Linked DNA regions of Homo sapiens: region 2 is linked to region 1. The links come from fine-mapping of genetic effects on gene expression. A gene starts in region 1. The other region holds a variant in brackets. All regions are shown on one strand. Distances are from middle to middle. Region 1 holds the start of TAMM41 (TAM41 mitochondrial translocator assembly and maintenance homolog). Region 2 overlaps TAMM41 (TAM41 mitochondrial translocator assembly and maintenance homolog).

Region 1 (11,424 bases):
TTCTAACTCAGTTCTTTGCCAATTCAGTTTCTCCCAAAATTCAGGGCCAGTTCTACAGAGAGATAAAGTGGGCAGCTGCTGACCAGCTTGAATTTCAGGGATAGTGGAGAATCAGAAGGGTAAACACATACGTAGTACTCACTACATGTCAGAGATTGATCTAACCAGCTTAGTTGTCATGACAACTCTGGGAGGTAGACGCTCTTATTATCCCCATTTTATACTTGTGGAAACTGAGACACAGAGCCAACTTGCACCAGGTCACACAGATCATCAGTGGCTGAGAATTGAAACCAAGCAGTCTCAATCCAGATTCCACATTCTGCCTCTCAGATGAGATACCTGCTCTGTTCTTTGGAATTCCACCATTATTTATTCATTTCTTTGGTACTGTAAAAGTCCATGGTCTTCCTGAACTCCACTGGAAAACTCAGTGTCCCCCTAGAAGGAGGATTCTAAGACCCAGTATGGAGGCAATTCTTTCTTCTTAGAATTTTTTCACGGTGTACTCTCTGGTGAACTGCTGGTCATCTTCCAAGGTCTAATCCAAATGTCATCCCTCTAAGAAGCTTTCCCAGAAACCCTGAAGAAAAAGTAACCCCTGCTGTCTTACCATTGCGGTGGTATAGATCTGGTTTATACTCTCCATAGTGTATTTTTTTTTGCATGCATGTGAATTTTTTGCCACCAGACTATAACATTTGCAAATGCAGAAATTTTGTTTCAGGCACTGTACTAGGCACTAAAGGACAGAAAGATTAATAAGATATGGTTCCTGACCTCAAAGGGCCCCTAAGCCTTTTATAATTGTACTTGATGGACATATCTGATATTTAAGACAAGAGCTAGAGAGCTAAAAGCAAAGGGTTAGGAAGGCACAGAGAACAGAACACTTTGATAGCTGAGCTGGGACTAAAGGATGAGGAAGGTTTCAATGGGAGAATGAATCAATGAATGAATGGGTCCCTTGGTGAAATGAACACCCCGTGTTATTTTTCTCGTGCAAGAGGAAAGGGATTGGACTTGGAGGCTGTATTAGCAGCTGCCATTAGCCCTGTGACTTCAGGCACATCAATTCTTTTTTCTAAGCTTCAGTTTATCCATCTGTAAAACTGAAATAGTAGCTACTAATTTCCCAGGATTTGTTTTAAGAGCTAAATAAAATCATGTCTGCAAAGTGCTTTGTGTAAAATGCTAAACGCCATAAAGATGTAGGTATAATTATGCTTCTTAATTCCTTTTGTACATTGTCTCTTAAGAATTCAGGAGGATGTCCTCCGTTTATTGAAAGCTTACTCCAGGCACTATTCTATGTACTTTCTAGATACTGTTTCATTTGCTGTCACAACAACCCTGTGAGTGAGGTGTCATTACTCTCCCCAGGCTGCAGATGAGGAAAGGAAAGCACAGAGAGGCTAAGTCTTCTTGTCCAAGGTCACACAGCTATTAAATCCTGGGGCCTGGATTCCAACCCAGGTGGTACCTTCAAGCCCCTGATCAGACACTAAAGATGTATTAAGATGCTCTCAGTTGGCTGGGCATAGTGGCTCACGCCTGTAATTCCAGCACTTTGGGAGGCCTAGGTGGGTGGATTGTTCGAGCTCAAGGGTTCAAGACCAGCCTGGACAACATGGTGAAACCCCATTCTCTACAAAAATACAAAAATTAGCCTGGTGTGGTAGTACATGCCTGTAATCCCAGCTACTCAGGAGGCTGAGGTGGGAGGATCACTCGAGCCTGGGAGGCAGAGGTTACAGTGAGCCGAGATCGTGCCACTGCACTCCAGCCTGGGTGACAGAGTGAAACCCTGTCTCAAAAAAAAAAAAAAAAAAAAAAGAAAAGAAAAGAAAAAAAGAAAAGAAAAGAAAGAAAAGAAAAGAAAAAACGAAAAAATGCTCCCAGTCTGTCCCAGTTCTAACCATCAATCAGCCGAGAATGGACAAATGGGACAGGGTGACCCACCTCTGACAAGATGGAGATCAAGACCCCTCTCCTTCCCCTCCATCAGCAGACCAATTGAACATGTGGCTAATTGTAAGAACCACTGAGCCTGGATTTTTATTCTTCCCCAAACATTTTTCTCTCCTGTACTTAAACACTGATTAGAAAAAAAAAAAAAAAGCATTAAAGCCATAGATGTTTTTTTACAGGGCTTTAAAAAAAATGGATTACATGGATTCGATGAACCTTCTCCTAGTGAAAGCCTGACAAGGTCATTATTAAGGAATACAAAGACAACTGCTAGATAAATCAGAAGAATGAGGCCCAATATTCACTCGAGTCACCAGGCATTTATCTATATTTGTAAGTGGCTCTCTAACATGTTTATTTCATTGGTATAAGCTTTCCAACAGAACCCTAAAGCGATTATATAGAACACTGGGTCTTCCTAATAGCCTCTAATTTCACAAGCCATGGTAATTTAAAAGAGAGTGGGTGGATGAAGGGCCAGGAGCAGGGAGATTTCTGCTGAAGAATACAAATGTGTTCGTGGCTACGTTGCTTCTGCCTCTTTCTGGGGAAAGGCAAAATGCACACAGGAATGTGATGGAACCTTCCAGCTGGTGGTTTTGCATTGCAGGAAGAAAAGTGTTTGTGAACATGAAAATTGCTGATAATTGGGTGTGAACGCCTGTAAGGGAGACAAATGGAGAAACATTGCAGCATCTTTATTTCTATCAAGGGCTGAACTCTGCTGGTGGGTGTGTGAATTGGCACCATCTTTTGGAGGGGAATTTAGCAGCGTGCTGACACTCTGACCCAGCAATTCCCCTTCTAGGAATCTGTCTTATAGCAATACTTGTTCATGCACATAAAATGTACAAGGATGCTCATGATAGCATTGTTTGCAGGTGTGAAAACTAGAAATAACCTACATCCATCAACAATAAAATGTTTAAACAGGCCAGGATGCCTGTAACCCCAGCACTTTGGGAGGCCGAGGCGGGTGGATCACTTGAGGTCAGGAGTTCGAGACCAGCCTGGCCAACATAGTGAAACCCCTGTCTCTACGAAAAATACAAAACTTAGCCAGATGTGGTGGCGGGCACCTGTAATCCCAGCTACTCAGGAGGCTGAGGCAGGAGAATCACTTCAACCCGGATGGTGGAGGTTGCAGGGAGCCTAGATTGTGCCACTGCACTCCAGCCTGGGTGACAGAGCAAGACTCGCTCTCAAAAAAAAAAAAAAAAAAAGAAAGAAACAAAAGAAAAGAAGAAAGAAAGAAAGAGAAAGAAAATGTTTAAACACTTTCTTTTAAACAAAAAATTTTAAACAAAATTATGGCATATCCATATCTTAGAATAATTTGCTACTAATACATGGAATGAGGGAAATCTATATATTCTGACACAGAACATTGTCCCTGATACGCTAAGTGCAAAAAAAGCAAATTGCAAAATAGTATCTATCCTAGGAATCCACTTAAAATTGTTTTTAATGTTAATATATTCATAGAAAAATATTGGAAGGAATATGTGCCAAAGATTACCGTGGCTATTTCTGGGGCATGATGTATGTATTTCATAATGTTTACATTTTTATGAACATGGATTACTTTTGCAAACAGGAAAAATCCAATGACGTTGAATTATTTCCCCAAGGGAAGGAAGGAAATAAAAAAGGAACCGGCTGGTAATGAGATTTATTCACTGTCTTTGGGTGAGAGGCTTCAGTGTAATTCCACGGTGAGTGCACTCTGATTCCGGCACCCTGGGCAAGGGCGATATGTAGTAAAAATGAACGGAAGTGACCATGCCCACACCAGGGGCCGCAGACAAACGGCCTCTCTCCGCTCCCTTGCCCTGGTCTCCTGCTTGTTGCTGCGGCTACTGCTGCTGCTCCTGACTCTTGGCTGATGCCTGAGTGCCTGCTTTCTTCCCATTTCCTTCTCTCACCCTGCAAGCCGCTGTAGAGGACACTTAAACATGGTGGTAAAGACCTTGGCCTTTAGAGGTAGGTAGCCCTAGGTTCAAACCCCGACTTCACCACTTTCCTGTGTGACTTTGGAACATTTACTGCTCCTCTTAGGACCTCTGTTTCCTCGTATGAAAAATATCATCATCTTAGAGAACCTGCCTCATAGGATCTCTGGAGTGATGAAAAGAAACAAGTATAAAAAGCCTGGGTGCAGTGGCTCACGCCTGTAATTCCAGCACTTTGGGAGGCTGAGGTGGGCAAATCACTAGAGGTCAGGATTTCGAGACCAGCCTGGCCAACACAGTGAAACCCCATCTCTACTAAAAATACAACAATTAGCCAGGCATGCTTGCTTGAACCCAGGAGGCAGAGGTCACAGTGAGCTGAGATCGTGCCACTGCACTCCAGCCTGGGCAACAGAGCAAGACTCGGTCTCAAAAAAAAAACAAAAACAGAAAAGCCCCAAAGAAGTCTAAAAAGTGCCTGGGCATACTAAGTGCTTAATAATGACACCTATTATTAGTATTATTGTCACCGAGTCCTTTCAATTCTTTCTTGGTTGAATTTTCCCATCTATCTTCTACCTGATAAACTCCTACCCAGCTTCCAGGCCTGGCTCAAAATGCCATCATTGTGAAACCTCTTCTGGTCCCTTTCCCCAACACCCAGAACTGACTGACGTTCCCATTGGAGGGACATTACATTCCGGCACTGTGCTGGGTACCTGGCTGCATTACCCAAATTCTACTCTGATTTGCAGTTCTGTCTCCTCTCCTCTACAGACCCCTAGCTCCTGCAGGGCAGCAGGCAGCTCAGATCTCTTCATCTCAGTGCAGGCCCAGAGTGTGAGTGCAAGTAATCATTTTTCCAATTGATTTAATCCCATCCCTGCTCCTAAGACCTTGGCCTAGCCGTTTCCAGTTCATGGGGGAACTATGATAACAACTGTCTAATCAGTCCCCCACAATTCAGGCTAACATGTGAATTACATAAGTCCTTGCTCAAAACCCTTCAAGGACAGAGCAGAATTTCCGAAAAAATCCCAGAGTTGGAGCCAGACCTGGGTTTAGCTCTAGTTTTGCCACAGGCTGATGTGATCCTATCACCTGGCTTTACCTCTCTAAGCCTTAGCTTGGCCATCAGTAAAACCAAGGCCCTCCTGCCACAGGGCACTAGAGGGTGCTCAGTGAGAAGTGCATGTGAAAATGTGTCAACATTACCTGAATGTTAGCTATTACTATTTCTATTATTTTTGAGAGGTAGTGTATTTTGGGGAGGAAGGAGAGGGTAGTTGAAAAAGTTTCTGTCCTGGAAGTCAAACCACCTCCTGAATGGTAATCTTCAGCAAGTTTCTCCAGTTATACAAAGAGGAGAGCTGTAAGATTTTTCTACTCCTAGGGTCCTGTTTCCTCCAGAAACTGCATTTGAAGCACCCTTTGTGAGACCATTCCACAAGGCAAGGGGGCAAAAACTGTGATCCACCCTTGAAATTAAATGCAAGTATCAGAGAACGTCTGTGCACTCCCATATCCACCCTTGTATTTGAAAAGGGCTTTAGCGTGAAGAAGTCTCCGTCAAATCTTGACGGTGGTATTCTCTACATGGCGGGATTGGGCATCATTTTAATTTTGTGTTTTTCCAAATCTTCGAAATCTGCAATTTTGGAACTAGAGCGATGATGGGGGCACAATATTGTGAAGGCACTACATGCTACTACACTGTCCATTTCAGAACGGCTAGTTCCATATTATGTGAGTGTCGCCTCACTTAAAAACCTTCAATACGCTCCCGATTTTATAGTCATTCTTTAAACCGTAGTTTGAAGAGAGAAGTACAGAGGCTATCAAGGCTCAGGGCCCGCGGAGTCGGGTGACGCTCGCCTCCGCCGATTTGTCCAAGTCGCAACCTAGCCGCCAGCCTGTAGGGCACTCCTCCGACCACGAGGGGACAATGCAAAGCCTCGCGTTCCCCACACTAAGGCGAGCACCGCCTCTTGCGTCTTGGAAGCGCCTGTGCGTGCGTGGGGCGTAGCAAGGGACGGAAGCTCTGCCTGTGCGACCGCCGCCCACCCGAGCCTATCTGGGCTGCGTCTTCTCGCCGCTGCTCTTCGTGGCCCAACGCCCCAATCCTTGCGTGTGCTTGCAGTCCCACCCCACACTCAGCCTTGTGTCCCTCGATCCAGTCTCCGACTTCCATTTCCCACCCTAAACCGCCTACCCGGTGTCTGTTCCCCGCCCGGTTGTCCTCGCCCTGCTGCGCTGAGTGTCCCCTGTTAGCCTCGACCCCATGGCGCTGCAGACGCTGCAGAGCTCGTGGGTGACCTTCCGCAAGATCCTGTCTCACTTCCCCGAGGAGCTGAGTCTGGCTTTCGTCTACGGCTCCGGGGTGTACCGCCAGGCAGGGCCGAGTTCAGACCAGAAGGTGAGCCCGGGCAGCCCCACGACGGGGAACTGTCTGTTCTCACGAGTCCCGTTTTGCCCTCGATTCCTTCAGAGTCGGAGAGCTGCCTGTCCGCTCTGCACACTCCACGTGTCCACTAGCAGAGTGAACCATAGGCCTGCCTTCCTAGTATAACGACAGCGCGAGTTGAAGCGACGGTGTTGAAGGATACTTAGGAATCCACGTGGGTCTAGAGCAGGAGAAGCAGTTAGGCAGAAGGAAAAACTGCTGCAGGGGCAAATGGAAGAAAGGAAAAGAAATCGTTATCAGGTTCTTTCAGTGTTTTAGTCGGCTGGACATCGGAATTTTCTGGGGAGCTTTTAAGAAAATCCTAATGCTCGGCTTCCGCCGATGGAGATTCTGATTTAATTGGTTTGGGATGAGGCCTGGGCTTCAGGAATTTAAGAAACGTCCCAGGTGATTCTAATGCGCAGCCAAGTTTGTTGAGAGTCACCTCTATAAATGTAGGAGAAAATGCAAAATGATCTTCTGACTTCAGGAAGTTGGCGGACTGGTTGTAGGGCCAGGGCAGGTGCAGTGAAAGTAACTAACATCAAAAGTTAGTGCGTGACCAGTGTATTTACCCTCGCTCAGCACTTTTAACAACGGTCTGTTTGAGACTAGGCATTGTTACTTTTCAGAGTTGGCTCAGCACAGCCTCAGTAAGGGTACAGTTTTCCTTGTAATTTGCAGAATTCAGTGTGCAGGTTTTAATGGGGCCCCCTGCGTCTGGATACCTGACTGTAGTCTGTCTTCTGATTAACATCCTGCCTGTTCACTTCCTGGTGAGGCCATCTATGCTGTTGCTTGGATTTCCTCTGTTTCCCACTTACACTACTATTTAATATTTTTCTTTAAATTGGCAGCATATGAGAAATTATAGGTTATTATAGGCTAGTTATTTTTCCCGAATTTACCTTAACATAATTACACATTTTTAAAAAACATGTTTATTCCATACCTGCCTCGCCACCAAATCTCAAGTGTCCCCAGTGGTCTGTAGAGTCACACTCTACAGAGCAGGCGTTAGCCTCCTGATGGCCACCTCTTCATTCTTCCATGGAGGTTTTCCTTTGAATAGACCTGGAATTCCCTGCAAGAAAAGGTCCTTCCTTCCCATTCCCTCACTTTTGATTCCTTACATTCAAGTGAACAAGTTGTAGATTCCAACACCTACATCTTTCTCACATCAGTCCCCATCCTTAGCGCCTTAGCTAATATAATTTCATTTCTCCCCTGGAATCTTGCCATGGCTTCAGATCTAATTCCCCCACCCCCTTAGTCCCTCTTCTCTCCAGTCAGCTCTTCTGCAGGAAAATTTTCTAGCATGGCAAACAGCCTCCCTCTCTGATCTCATCTCCCACCGCATAAATGTGTTCTATTTCAGTCATATCTGACGGCAGCTTCCAGAACATGCTGGCTCCCATATCCACAGAGCACTTTCCTCCAACACGGCTCCCTACCCTTCCCTGTGCTTCCCCCAGTGCTTCCAGCAAGTCTGTTTAACTCACGTGTCCTTCAAGACTCAGATTTGTCATCTCTAGGAGAATTTCTCCCTCCTGTGCCCCTGATCTGATCCCTATGCTGAGTGCAGTTAGTACATTTTGCATTCCTCTATCAAGTCAATGTAGTGATAATTTGTTTATTCTCTCCAGTAGACTCTGAGCTCTATACTTCTACCCTAGGGCCTGTCAGAGTTCATTACTTATGTACTCAATAAGTGGTTGGTGAATAGGTAAGAGATAAAATAACTGACTTCCTTTTATATAGTATTTTGTAGAGTTTATCCAGGTGGTGCTAATTTGATCCAGAAGAAAAGCGGAGCACATTTAGCTACATTTGTGAAAGGCAGTGTAGTGCAGTGGTTCAGCACACACAGTTTGGAGCCAGACCTCTTAGGTCTGCCACTCACAAGCTCTGTGTCCTTGGGCAAAGAGCATCCCCTGTGCCTTGGTTTCTTATAAAATTGAGATAATAGCAGTAGCTACCTTGTAGGGTTGTGCTGAGGATAAATGGAGTGACTGCGTATGTTACCCATAAAGTGTTTAAAGAGTGCTGGCACAACAATACATGTTAAAGAAGTGTTTGCTATTATTACATTGATGAAAACAAAGCTCATATTTGTTCCAGAGACTCGCTCACATTTCTGATGACAGCACCAGGCCTTCTGACTATTGATCATAATTGCGTAGTATGTTAGAGCTTTTCCATGCTCTCTTGCTGCCTTTCTAGGAATTAATACTGAAATTATTCTCTTTTCTTCACTCCACAGAATGCTATGCTGGACTTTGTGTTCACAGTAGATGACCCTGTCGCATGGCATTCAAAGAACCTGAAGAAAAATTGGAGTCACTACTCTTTCCTAAAAGTTTTAGGGCCCAAGATTATCACGTCCATCCAGAATAACTATGGCGCTGGAGTTTACTACAATTCATTGATCATGTGTAATGGTAGGGTAAGTGACTGCTGGCCTTTGTCTTAACTTGGCTGGTTATTTACCTGGGTTATTAGAGTGCCAGCTAAATATGTATGTTCTTGTGGTCAGGAAACATTCACACTCCTGCTGGACGTTGTTATAGTCGGGAAATATGTATGTTTTTATAGTATGTATATTCTTATAGTCAGGAAACATTCACACTCCTGCCAGACGTCTTGAACTTGGGGACAGAGCAGGGACTGGAGTCCTTCCTCATGTCCCATTAACTGTCATTGCAGTGTGAGGAGGTGGTTGGGTGTGACTGACTTATTTTATTTTTTTTATTTTTTTGAGACGGAGTTTTGCTCTTGTTGCCCAGGCTGGAGTGCAGTGGTGTGATCGCAGCTCACTGCAACCTCCGCCTCACGGGTTCAAGTGATTCTCCCGCCTCAGCCTCCCAGTTAGCTGGGATTACAGGCGTGTGCCACCTTGTAGGAGAGACAGGGTTTCACCATGTTGGCCAGGCTGGTCTCGAACTCCTGACCTCAGGTGATCTGCCCGCCTCAGCCTCCCAAAGTGCTGGGATTACAGGCGTGAGCCACTGAGCCCGGCCACACTGACTTTATTTTTTTGTCTTTGGCCAAGTGGTTCTCAAGTTTTAGTGTGCATCAGAATCCCCTAGGTTGTGTGTCCATTGGACACACAGATTGCTGGGCCCCACCCCCAGAGTTCTGATCACTAGGTCTGGGGTAGGGATTGAAGATTTGCATCTCTTAACACACTTCCAAACAGTGCTGAAGCTGCTGGTCTAGAACCATTGGTCTGGTCAGTGGGAGGAATAGGCAGGCCAATTTTGGGTCAGGTTGGAGATTGATTTTATCTAGAAGGAGGGGCAGACACCCCCAGGAAGAAGTTGGAAGTGAAGAGGATATCACAGGTGATTGAGAGCATGTGTGTCAGGTGATAGACGGGAACCTCTTGGTGCCAGGAGACGCGTGGAATTTGACAGTGGGCTGTTGGAGAGCAGGTAAGTTGCATGGATTCCTGCTGGTGGTTCATCTGACAGCAGGAACTTTGCTGAACTGTCTTTCAGCTGAAGCATCGCAGTCTCCAAGAGAGCTGTCAAGACCTAGGCAGAACCCCAGCCTGCAAGGATCAGTAGGGGTCTAAATCAGATGCTTCCTAGAGCTTCCCTGGGCCAGGGATGACATATGGGTTTCACTTGCTGTGCCAGCTCTGCCACTCATTGTTCAAGGCGGTCAGGCTTTGGCCGGCATCGAGCCACCTGGAGATCCCATTTCAGTGCAGATCCTGACTCAGTTGGTCTGAGATGGAACCTGAGATTCTGCCTTTTTTTTTTCTTTTTCTTTTTTTGAAACAGGGTCTGGCTCTGTCACCCAGGCTAGAATGCAGTGGCACCATCTCCGCTCATTGCAATCTCTGCCTCCCGGGCTCAAGCCATCTACCTGTCTCAGCCTCCCAAGTAGCTGGGGCTACAGGCACATACCACCACGCCTGGCTAATTGTTGTATTTTTTGTAGAGACAGGGTTTTGCCATGTTGCCCAGGCTGGTCTTGAACTCCTGACCCCAAACAGTCCTCCCAAAGTACTGGGATTTACAGGTGTGAGCCACCATGCCCCACCAAGGTTCTGCTTTTTTTTTTTTTTTTTTTGAGATGGAGTTTTGTTCTTGTTGCCCAGGCTGGAGTGCAATGGTGCGATCTCTGCTCACTGCAACCTCCGCCTCCCAGGTTCAAGCGATTCTCCTGCCTCAGCCTCCCGAGTAGCTGGGATTACAGAGCCCACTACTGTAATCATGTCCAGCTAATTTTTTGTGTTTTTAGTAGAGTGGGGTTTCACCATGTTGGCCAGGCTGGTCACGAACTCCTGACCTCAGGTGATCCACCCGTCTCGGCCTCCCAAAGTGCTAGGATTACAGGCGTAATTCTGCATTTGTTATAAGCTCCCAAGTGATGCCAATGCCATTGGTCAAAGGCCCACGCTTTAAAGGGCAGGAGGTTGGAGTACTGACTTGAGAAGGATTTGAAGGTCTGTCTGAACTTGGCTAAGGAGTGAGTGTTGTGATTGACTGGTGACGTCTGCATACCCCTTGGGCCATATATTTGCTTTTCCGGTTGAGATCCAACCTTGCTTCACCTGTATTTTGCAGTTGAGGAAACTGAAGTTCAGAGAGAGGAAATGACTTCCATAAGGTTGTGCAGCTAGTTTGCAACAGGTCCCCTGACTTCCAGGCCCGTGGTGTTTCTGTTACCTCCCAGTGGTTACTTGCCTGCAGCTAGAAGGGCTTTCTGCAGTGCTGCTGCTGGAGTTGGGGGGAAAAGGCTGACACTCAGCACAGCCTTCTGCATCCACTTGAGTCATGCAGGACACTTAGCTTTGTTCTTTCTCCACAGTTAATATTATGCCAAACCTACCTGTAATTAGTAATTTTCAAAGAATATTATAAGTTCCAGTAACCAAATGTTTGGGCATAATTATATGCCAAAAGACTACTTTTTAATTGATAATTTTTAACTGCTTTTTATATATTTGCAGCCTGAGAAGGCTGTTTGGATACTGAGGTTCAGCAAAGTGGGTCTGAAGATACTTGTTTATGCAAATGGGACTTTGTAACCTGGGAAATCTACAGG
Region 2 (11,424 bases), 44 kb after region 1:
CTGTCAAAGGGAGAAACAATGTTTCTTTTGGTTCCTAGAGCACAACTTCTAGAATTTATTTAAAAGATGTGTCTGTGTTTTGTGGTGGTCTGAGAAAAGAGATTGGTGGCATTTTTTTGTGCTTTTATAACATCGAGAACACAGCTTTCCTCAATCAACTCCATTTGATGTGTCTCATACATTGTTGAGTACATTCCCTCAGACATGGCCCACGTTCCACAGCATTTTCCCCAGCACTGCCCTGATGTTTATCCAAAACTCTGAACCCAGGCCAGGTGCAGTGGCTCACGCCTGTACTCCCAACACTTTAGGAAGTCCAGGAGGGAGAATCACTTGAGGCCAGGAGTTTGAGACCAGCTTGGGCAACAGAGCAAGACCCTGTCTCTGCAAAAATTACAAAAGTAGCTGGGCATGGTGGCACATGCCTATAATCTCAGCTAACTTGGGAGTCTGAGGTGGGAGGATCGCTTGAGCAGTTGGAGGCTGCAATGAGCTAGGATCGCACCACTACACTCCAGGCTTGGTGATAGAGCAGCCCGTATCTCTTAAAAAACAAACAAAAAAAAGAGCCTGAACCTTATCTTCAGAGACTAACTTCCCTTTAAGGTGCTAAAGGTAATTTATGAGATCAGTCAATCAAGAAATATTTATGAAATTGAGAATGAGTCCCTCTGTCAATTGAGTGCATTCTCCTGTTTTCATTCAGTAAATATTTACTGAGCTCCTCCGCGTGCCAGATAGAATTTCCAGTAATGCTTTGCAAAGACCATCGCACTGCAGTGGATGAGCTGCAGCAGGCGCTCCACGCCCACTCTCCTCCTGGGCCTGCACTAGGTTTGCAGAGTGTGTGTTTAGGTCACCAGCTCCCCATCCTGAAGATAGCTCTGTACGAGGCACACTGTTGTTTGTTTGAACATGATCCTGGCAACAGTGTGATCTGGGCCGTCTCTTTGAGGTGAGTGAAACTTGTTCCTCACTGTGGAATCCGTATGTGTGTTTTCAGAATGAAAGTTTTTCTCGTAGATGTAATCATTTGGTTTTTATCTTTTCATGTTATGGAATTGAGAACCAGAAATCTCAAGCAGATTTAAGTCATAAAATGCCCTTTGAGGGTCAGCTAACCCATCCCCTTGTTTTAAGGGGAAGAGGCACAGAGCTGTTCGGTCATCGGCTTGGACTCACACAGCCGGGTGGCGCCACGGCTGGCTGCTCTGGTCTCCTGGCCCTCAATCCCACTGCCCTTTTCATTGTCACTGTGACAGCAGGACAGAGATAGATTTGGTGGTTTGATTGGCTGACTAGAAAGAATATTTAGTTTCAAGTTTTAAAACTGTTAAGATGACTAACATCTGTTTTGGGTTTTTTTGGTCTCCTTTTTGGTTTTTTTCTCGCAGGGCTTTCAGCAATCGTGAGACCGTCTAGTATAAGACAGAGCACGAAAGGCATTTTTACTGCTGGTAAGAGCTTTGGAAATCCGTGTGTAACATACCTGCTGACTGAGTGGCTTCCACACTCTTGGTTACAGTGTAAAGCTTTGTATCTTTTAGGTGCTTGTGAAATGCTGAGCTTTGATGGCCATAAACTGGGATATTGCAGTAAGGTACAAACAGGCATAACAGCAGCAGAACCTGGTGGTCGAACAATGTCAGACCATTGGCAGTGCTGTTGGAAGCTTTACTGCCCTTCTGAATTTTCTGAGACACTTCCTGTGTGCAGGGTTTTTCCCTCATATTGTTTTATTTATCAAAGTTACAGATGCATAGGATTGCAAAAACAGCAGCATCTGTGCTCCCCCTCCTCTTCCCCTTCTCTGAGACAACTGCTTCCATCTGTCTTAGTGGGTTATTTTTGTTGTTACTGCCATTTCTCTAAATGGTAAGTTTTCGTTGCTCCTTCTCTACGTTTCAACTTTAGGTATCATCTATTGACTTCTCTCTATGGGAGGTTAGAAGTCAACTCTGGCACCCACCCTCATCAAATGTACGCACCCTCCCATCCCTCTGTCCTCCTAATATAGTTGTCTGGTGGTTTTGGCTAATTAGTTTTCAGTTTGATGGTATGGTGAGCCACAGAGTACACCTTTCCTTCCCTGCATAATGTTCTTCTCTCATGGAGAGTGTCTTCGCTGTCCCCTCTAGGGGGTCCCCCATTTACTGTATCTCATGTCTTTCACTTGCTTGGTGCACACTCTCATTTTGGTGAAGCACATTTTCCAGTAATTTCCTGAGAAGGGGAACATGGAAGGCACATTTGGAGACCACGTATGTCTGAAAGTCTTTTTTGTCTGTCTTCACCCATAGTTAATACTTAGGCTGGGTATTGATTAGAAATCACTTTCCTTTAAAATTTTGAGATCATTGCTGCATTTATCTTTTACTTCTAGGATTGTTGTCTATGTCTAAAGCCAATCTGATTCTTAATCCTTTGTGTATGTTATTTCTGGAAGCATGTTAGGTCTTTATTTTTCCCCAGTGCTCTGAATTCTCTCAGTGATGTGCTTTGATGTGAGTCTGTTTTTATCTGTTTTATCTGTTTTACCGGGAATTCATTGCCCTTTCTGTTGGGAAACTCAGAATATAAGCATATAAGAAAAATGTTTTAAATTTTTTCTTTAATTTTGTCCCATCTGTTTTCTCTGTTCTCTTTCTGGAACTCCTTTTATTCAGATATTGCACCCCCTAGATTAGTCTTTGGTTTTCTTTCTTTTGTCTTCTATTTTTTATCTGTTTTTCTTTTGCTCTGCTTTGGAAGATTTTCTCGAATTTCTCAACTTTAGCTTCCAACCCTTCTGTTGAGTGTTTATAATTTCCAGGAACTCTCTCTTTTCTTGCTGTTCTCTGAATGCTCCTGTTTTTTGCATCCTATTCTTGTTTTATGGCCTAAATATTTGACATCTCTTTGGAGGACAAAGTGGCTGTATCAGTTCATCGTCCCACAAGCAGAGTAGGAGAATACTCTTTTCTTCCCATTTTTTCCAACATTTGGCATCATCAAGTGATAGACTTTTCTAGTTCAGGCTTTCTTCATGCAAGCATCCATTGAGCATCTCTCATGTGCCAGCTGCTCGGGATACAAAAGTGAACACAACGCTGCGTTAGTCTGTTCTCATGCTGCTAATAAAGACATACCTCAGACTGGGTAATTTATAAAGGAAAGAGGTTTAATTGATTAGCAGTTCCACATGGCTGGGGGTGTCTCAGAATCATGGCGGAAGGTGAATGAGGAGCAAAATCATGTCTTACATGGCGGCAGGCAAGAGAGCATGTGCAGGGGAGCTCCCTTTTATAGAACCATCAGATCTCGTAACACTTATTCACTATTATGAAAACAGCACAGGAAAGACCTGCCTTCGTGATTCAATTACCTCCCACCAGGTCCCTCCCACGACGTGGGGATTATTACAATTCAGGGTAAGATTTGGGTGGGAACACAGAGCCAAACCATATCAAATGCTATACTGACTTGCAGAGGCGTATAATTTAGAAGGGAAAAGAGACATGCTAACAGAAATTTGCAAGAGAGGGAGAAATAGCACAGAGGTAGCCCAAAAAGGGGAGTGATCTTTCAACCTAATTCTAATCCCTGGGTTTGAGATTGCTGGGGAGCTGGTATGGTCACACCTCTCAGTGTCTCATAGCCCAGCTGCTTGGATACTCCTCTGAGCATTTGGCCCTCAAGGACCGTGTTGCCCTCCTGAATCACTGGAAAGATTCAACAAGGCCAGGCATGGTGGCTCACACTTATAATCCCAGCACTTTGGGAGGCCAGGGCGGGAGGATTGCTTGGGCTCAAGAGTTCAAGACCAGTCTGGGCAACACAGCAAGACCCTGTCTCTTTAAAAATAACAAAAATAGGCCAGATGCGGTGGCTCACACCTATAATCCCAGCACTTTGGGAGGCCAAGGCAGGAGGATCACTTGAGTCCTGGAGTTTGAGATCAGCCTGGGCAACATGGTGGAACCCTGTCTCTAAAAAAATAGAAAAAATAGGCTGGATGTGGTGACTCATGCCTGTAATCCTAGTACTTTGGGAGGCCGAGACAGGCAGATTGCCCGAGCTCAGGGGTTTGAGACCAGCCTGGGCAACATGGTGAAACCCCGTCTCTACTAAAATACAAAAAATTAGCTGGGCGTGGTGGCACATGCCTGTAGTCCCACCTTTGAGCGGCTGAGGCAGGAGAATTGCTTGAACCTGGGAGGCGGAAGTTGCAGTGAGCCAAGATTGTGCCACTGCCTCTGGCCTGGGCGAGAGTGAGACTTCGTCTCAAAAAAAAAAAAAAAAAAAAAAAAAAAAGGGCTGGGCGTGGTGGTGCGCGCCCGTAGTCCTGAGCCCAGGAAGTCGAGGCGGCATTGAGCTAAGAACGCACCACTGCACTTCAGTCTGGGTGACAGAGTGAGACCCTGTCTCAAAAAAAAAAAAAATTATAATAATAAAAACATTGTATAAAAGTTTCAACAAAGACTTAGTAGCACTTGTGTCACATCTGCTGAACTAAAGATTTTCCTACCATTTGGGTGCATGGCTTTGCATTTCCAGTTAAGATATTCATTTAATCTATGTTCCTGCTAGTTTACTCTGGCAAGACTGAAGATGAGGTACTTTTGTTTGTTTGGGTGATTCATGCTGTTAATCTGAATTTTGCATGATTGCCTTTCCCTTGCCATGATCCTCCTTGGGTGAGGCTTAATGATTTGTTTTGTTGTTGGCGTCCCATGCTATAAGGAATTATTGGAATTATTAGAATTATTGTTAATTATTTTTCAGTTGTGACAATGGTGGTGTTATGGAGCTTTTTAAAAAATTCCCTTTCTTTTAGAGATGCATACTAAAATAATTCCAGATGCAATGATATGTTGTCTGGGATTTGCTTCAAAATAAAACATGGCAGAGGGCAGTGGGTAATGGGTAGATGACACAAGATTGGCCATGAGCTGATATATTGTCAAAGCTAGGTAAAGATGCATGGGGCTGTTTTATACTCTTCTGTCTGTTATTTAAGTTTGAATTTTTCTCTAATAAAAGGCTGAAAAAGATCTTCTTGACACCTTCAACCTGAAATGAGCCTTTGGTCCTCTTTCCACTCATTATTTCTACTCACCAGCAGAGGGCAGTTGATCACAGAACCCACAGCTCAGCTGTCCTTGTGGCCCTGGAGTGCTGATGCTGCTTCCCCTGAGTGCTTACTGCTTGCTTCCCCTTCACTTTTTTTTCTTTTTAATTTTTAAAACGTTTAAGGAATACAAGTGCATTTTTCTTACATGGTGAAGTCTGGGCTTTTAGTGTACCCATCATCACCCAAATAGTGAATATTGTACCCAATAGGTAATTTTCCAACCCTCATCTCCTCCCACCCTCACACTTTTTATAGTCACCAGTGTCATTCTATTCTGTATGCTCATGCATACACATTGTTTAGCTCCCACTTAAAGTGAGAACATGTGATACTTGAATTTCTGTTTCTGAGTTATTTCACTTATA[C/G]ACGTGGCCTCCAGTTCTATCCATCTTGCTGCAAAAGACATTATTTCATTCTTTGTTATGGCTAAGTAGTATTCAAGGTGAGATATAGATGTAGATATATACACATTTTTGTTATCCAGTCCTCCATTGATGGACACTTTGGTTAATTCCATATCATTGCTATTGTGACTAGTGCTGCAGTAAACATACGAGTGGTTTTTTTTGTTTTTGTTTTTGATATAATGATTTCTTTCCTTTTGGATGTATACATAGTAATGGGATTGCTAGATCAAAGGTTAATTCTATTTTTAGGTCTTTAAGAAATCTCCATACTGTTTCCCATAAAGGCTATACTAATTTAGATTCCCTTCAACAGTGTATAAGCATTCCCTTTTCTCCACATCTGCACCAACATCTGTTTTTTGTTTTTTGTTTTTTTTTGTGAGACAGAGCAACTGCCTCACTCTGTTGCTCAGGCTGGAGTATAGTGGCGCGATCTCACCTCACTGCAACCTCCACCTCCTGGTTTCAAGCGATTCTCCCCCTTCAGCCTCCTGAGTAGCTGGAGACGGAATCTCTGTCACCCAGGCTAGAGTGCAGTGGTGCAATCTCAGCTCGCAGCAACCTCTGCCTCCTGGGTTCAAGCAATTCTACTGCCTCAGCCTCCCGAGTAGCTGGGACTACAGGCATGCATCACCATGCCTGGCTAATTTTTGTATTTTTAGTAAAATCGGAGTTTCACCATGTTGGCCAGGCTGGCCTTGAATTCCTGATCTCAAGTGATCTGCCCACCTTGGCCTCCCAAAGTGCTGGGATTACAGGTATAAGTCACTGTGCCCAGGCTATTGAATGCTTTTTCTGCATCTATTTAGACAATCATGTGGTTTTTGTCCTTAATTCTGTTTATGTGATGTATCACATTTATTGATTTGTATATATTGAACCATCCTTGCATCCCTGGGATAAATCCCACCTGATCATAATGTATTCTCTTTTTGATGTGCTGTTGGATTTAATTTGCTAGTATTTTGTTGAGGATTTTTGTGTCTGTGTTCATCAGGGATATTGGTCTATAATTTTCTTTTTTGGTGGTGTTGTGTCCTTGTCTGTTTGGTACCAAGGTGATAGCGGCCTCATAGAATGAGTTAGGGAGAATTCCCTCCTTGATCTTTTTAGAATAGTTTCAGAAGGATTGGTATTCATTCTTTCTGTGTTTGGTAGAGTTCAGCTGTGACTCCATCAGGTCCTGGGCTTCTTTTTGTTCTTGGGAGATTTTTATTAGTGATTCAGTCTTGCTACTACATTACTGATCTTTTCAGATACTCTGTTTCTTCCTGGTTCAATCTTGAAGATTATGTTTCCATGAATTTATCAGTTTCCTCTGGGTTTTCTAGTTTGTGGACATCTAGTTGTTTATAATAGTCTCTGATGATCTTCTGTATGTCTGTGGTATCAGTTGTAATGTCTCCTTTTTCATTTCTGATTGTGTTTATTTGTATCTCTTCTTGTCTTGTATCTTGTTTATTTGTATCTCTCTTGTCTTCTTAGTCTTAGCTAGTGGTTTATCAATTTTGTGTATCTTTCAAAGAACCAACTTTTCTTTTTTGTTTTTTGAGTCAGGGTCTGGCTCTATCACTCAGGCTACACGGTGCAGTGGCACAATCATGGCTTACTAGAATATTTGCCTCCCAGGCTTAAGCAATCCTCCCACCTCAGCCTTTCAAGTAGGTGGGACTACAGTGCACACTACCATGCCTGGCTAACTTTTGTATTTTTTGTCAAGGTGAGATTTTGCCACATTGCCCTGGCTGGTCTTGAACTCCTAGAATCTCGATCCGCCAGCCTCAGCCTCCCAAAGTGCAGGGATTACAGGCATGAGCCACTGCACCTAGTCCCAACTTTTCATTTTGTTGATACTTTGTATTGTTTTTTGGTCTCCATTTTATTTAGTTCTGCTCTGATCTTTGTTATTTCTTTTCTTCTGCTAACTTTGAGTTTAGTTATTTTTTTTCTTGTTATAGTTTTCGTTATATTTTTCAATGCCTTGAGGTATGGCATTAGGTTGTTAATTTGTGATCTTCCTACTTTTTTATGTAGACATGTAATGCTGTAAACATTAGTAATGCCCTCTTAGCACTGCTTTTGCTGCATCCCACAGGCTTTGGTATGTTGTGTTTTCATTTTTATTTGTTTCCAAAAATTTTTAAGGTCAGGCATGGTGGCTCATGCCTGTAATCCCAGCACTTTGGGAGTCTGAGGTGGGTGGATTGCTTGAGCCTAGGAGTTTGAAACCAGCCTGGGCAACGTGGAAAAACCCCATTTCTACAAAAAAATTAGCTGTGCAGCTGTGCATGGTGGTATGTGCCTGTAGTCCCAGCTACTCAGGAGGCTGAGGCAGGAGTCTCACTTGAGCCAAAGGAGTTTGAGGCTACGGTGAGCCATGATTACACCACAGCCTGGGTGACACAGTAAGACCCTGTCTCAGGGGTCTCAGGGGAAAAAAATCTTCATTAACCCAGTGATTAAGTGATTATTTAGGGGCATGCTGTTTAATTTCCATGTACTTGTATCATTTCTGAAGTTCCTCTTATGTTGATTTCTAGCTTTATTCTACTATTGTCTGAGAAGATACTTGATTTTGATTTTTTAAAATTTGTTAAGACTTGTTTTGTAGCCTAATGTGTGATGTGTGATCTATCTTTAAGAATGTTTCTTCTTCCTTTTTTTTTTTTTTCTTTCTTGAGACAGGGTCTTGCTCTGTTGCCCAGGGTGGAGTGCAGTGGTGTGATCATGGCTTACTGTAGCCTTGACCTCCTAAGGTTAAGCAGTCCTCTCACCTCAGCCTCCTGAGTAGCTGGGACCACAGGCACATACCACCATGCCTGGCTACATTTATTTTTAATCTTATTTTTTGTAGAGACAAAGTCTCCCTATGTAGCCCATGCTTGAAGAATGTTTTATGTGCTGATGAAAAGAACATATATTCTGTAGATGTTGGGAAGAATGTTCTGTAAATGTCTGTTAAGTCTATTTGGTCTAAAGTCCAGTGTTTCTTTGTTAATTTTTTGCCTCGATGGTCTGTATAGTGCTGTGAGTAGAATGTCGAAGTCCCCCACTGTTATTGTGTTGCTATCTATCTCTTTCTTTAGAGCTAGTAATATTTGTTTTGTGAATTTGGGTGGTCCTATGTTGGGTGCATATATATTTAGGATTTGCTGTACCCTTTTGGTGAACTGATCCCTTTATCATTATATAATGACCTTCTTAGTCTTTTTTTTTTTTTTTAACTGTTTTTGATTTAGAGTCTGTTTTATTTGACATATATATAGTTCTCCTTTTGATTTCTTTTTGGATGGAATATCTTTTTCCACCCCTTTACTTTCAGTCTATTTGTGTCTTCACAGGTAAGGTGAGTTTCTTGTAGGTAGCATATAGGTGGATTATGTTTTTTTAATCCATTCTGCCAGTCTGTATCTTTTAAATGAAGCATTTAATGCATTTACATTTAAAGTTAATATTGATATGTGAGGTTTTGTTTCTGTCACATGGTTATTTTCAAGTTATTTTATAAATTCTTTGTTTTCTTTCTTTTTCTCTTTTTGTCCTTGTGTTTTGATGAAATTCTGTAATTTGATTTCTTTCTTTTCCTCTTTTGTGAGATTGTTTTATAAGAACTGTGAGTTTTATATTTCTGGGTATTTTTGTGATGGTGAATATCAGCGTTTTGTTTCCATGTTTAAGACTCCTTTGAGCATTTCCTATAGGGCTGGTCTAGTGGTGACAGATTCCATTAGTATTTGTCTAGGAAAGACTAGTCTCTTTCATTTATGAAGCTTATTCTAGCAGGATATAAAATTCTTGGGTGACAGGGTTTTTTTCCTTCAGCACTTTAAAAATGCTATCCCATTCTCTTCTGGCCTTTAAGGTTTCTGCTGAAAAGTCCACTGTTAGTCTGATGAGGTTTCCTTTATGGGTGACTAGATGCTTTTCTCTTGCTTATTTTAAAATTGTTTCTTTTACTTTCACTTTAGACCTTCTGATTATAGTATGCTATGTTGAAGTCCTTTTTGCAGTGTATTCACCTGGGGGTCATTGGGTCTCTTGTATCTGGATATCTGACACACTTGCTAGACTTGGGAAGCTTTCATTGATTATTTCCTTAAATAAATTTTTCTAAACATTTTAACCTCTCTTCCTGCACAGCCTTTTCTTCACTTCTAATGATGCCACATTGCATTGTGGAAGTCCAGAGTGACAGAATGTATGTTACCTCACACTGAGGTGACATAAAGCATGGAAAGTGATGAGCACCCCTTCAGATTCTGTGGGTTAAATGGCCTTATGCTCTGGCTGCTCTGTTTATTATGGCCAAGGGCTGTGACAAAGGTTTCCTAGCATAGTGCTGAGGGCAGAGGTTTGTGAGCCGCAGAGACTAGAGCTCAAATTACAACCTAACCAGTGTGACTTGGGCAAGTTACCTAATTTTTCTGAGTTTTAACTTCATAGGAATAATTATGCCTGCCTCACCAGGTTGTGAAGATTATGTTTGGTTTTTTGTTTGTTTTGGGTTTTGTTTTTTTGGAGACAGGTTCTAGCTCAGGCCAGAGTGCAATGGTGTATTTTACGTTTGTTTTTTTGTTTTTGTTTTGTTTTTTTGGAGACAGGTTCTAGCCCAGGCTAGAGTACAATGATGTGATCCTCCCACTTTAGCCTCCCAAGTACCTGGGTCTAAAGGATGCAATACCACACCTGGCTGTTTTTTTGTTTTGTTTTTGTTTTTTGTAGAGATGGAGTCCCACTATGTTGCCCAGGCTTGTTTCAAACTCCTGGGCTCAAGTGATCCTCCCACCTCAGCCTCCCAAAGTGCTGGAATTATAGGGTTAAGCCACTGCACCTGGCCAGGAGATTATATTTTAAGATATATTAAGGCATCTAGCATTGTGTCTGGTTTTTCTTCTTTTGGTATCATTACCTAAAAGTTTCCTGACCTCTCTTTAAAACAAGCCTCTTTACAATGTCATATTTGAATAGTGTTAGCCCCTGGCCCAGGTCTCCAGCTGGAGTAAACTAACAGTGACAGGCACCGAGTGACTGGTTTGCCTGTTTCTCTTTCCTCATCCTCACAGTAAGTTTCAGAACCTCTATCCTTCTCCACCTTGTTCTTTTTTTTTAACTTTTATTTTAAGTTTGGGGTACATGTGCAAGTTTGTTATGCAGGTAAACTTGTGCCATAGAAGTTTGTTACACAGATTATTTTGTCACCTATTTATTAAGCCTAGTTAGAACCCATTAGTTATTTTTCCTGATCCTCTCACCCCTCCCATCCTTCACCCATCAGTATGCCCCAGTGTCTGTTGTTCCCTTCTATGTGTCCTGTGTGTTCTCATCATTTAACTCCTACTTGTAAGTGAGAATATGCAGCATTTGGTTTTCTGTTGCTGTGTTAGTTTGCTGAGGATAATGGCCTCCAGCTCCATCTATATCCCTGCAAAGGACATGGTCTCTTTTTTATTATGGCTGCATAGTATTCCATGGTGTATATGTACCACGTTTTCTTTATGCAGTCTACGATTGATGGGCATTTAGGTTGATTCCATGTCTTTGCTATTGTGAATAATGCTGCAATGAGTATACATATGCATGTGTCCTTGTGATATAATGAATTATATTCCTTTGGGTATGTACTCCAGTAATAGGCTTGCTGGGTCAAATGGCAGTTCTCTTTTTAGGTTTTTGAGGAATCGGCACATTGTCTTCCACAGTGGTTGAACTAATTTACACCCCTGCCAGCAGTGTATAAATGTTCCTTTTTCTCCACAACCTCACCAGCTTCTGTTGTTTCTTGACTTAATGACAACCATTCTGACTGCTGTGAGATGGAATCTCATTGTGATTTTGATTTGCATTCCTCTAATTATCAGTCAGTCATGTTGAGCTTTTTTTCCTTTGATTGTTGGCTGCATGTAT

What was found. PIP is the estimated chance that this variant, and not a neighbour inherited with it, causes the effect.
Region 2: its variant is fine-mapped to the expression of TAMM41 in spinal cord (GTEx, PIP 0.94).

What each region holds. Positions count from the first base shown.
Region 1 is chr3:11,841,417-11,852,840 of GRCh38, reverse strand. It overlaps TAMM41 (TAM41 mitochondrial translocator assembly and maintenance homolog), which reads left to right and starts at 5,956. Exons shown (of 8, transcript NM_001284401.2): 1 at 5,956-6,339; 2 at 8,630-8,812. The coding sequence starts at 6,205.
Region 2 is chr3:11,797,866-11,809,289 of GRCh38, reverse strand. It overlaps TAMM41 (TAM41 mitochondrial translocator assembly and maintenance homolog), which reads left to right. Exons shown (of 8, transcript NM_001284401.2): 7 at 1,395-1,457. Among named protein-coding and RNA genes, the nearest start is that of TAMM41, 43 kb to the left of the region's middle. The variant C/G (reference allele first, on the strand shown) is at 5,479.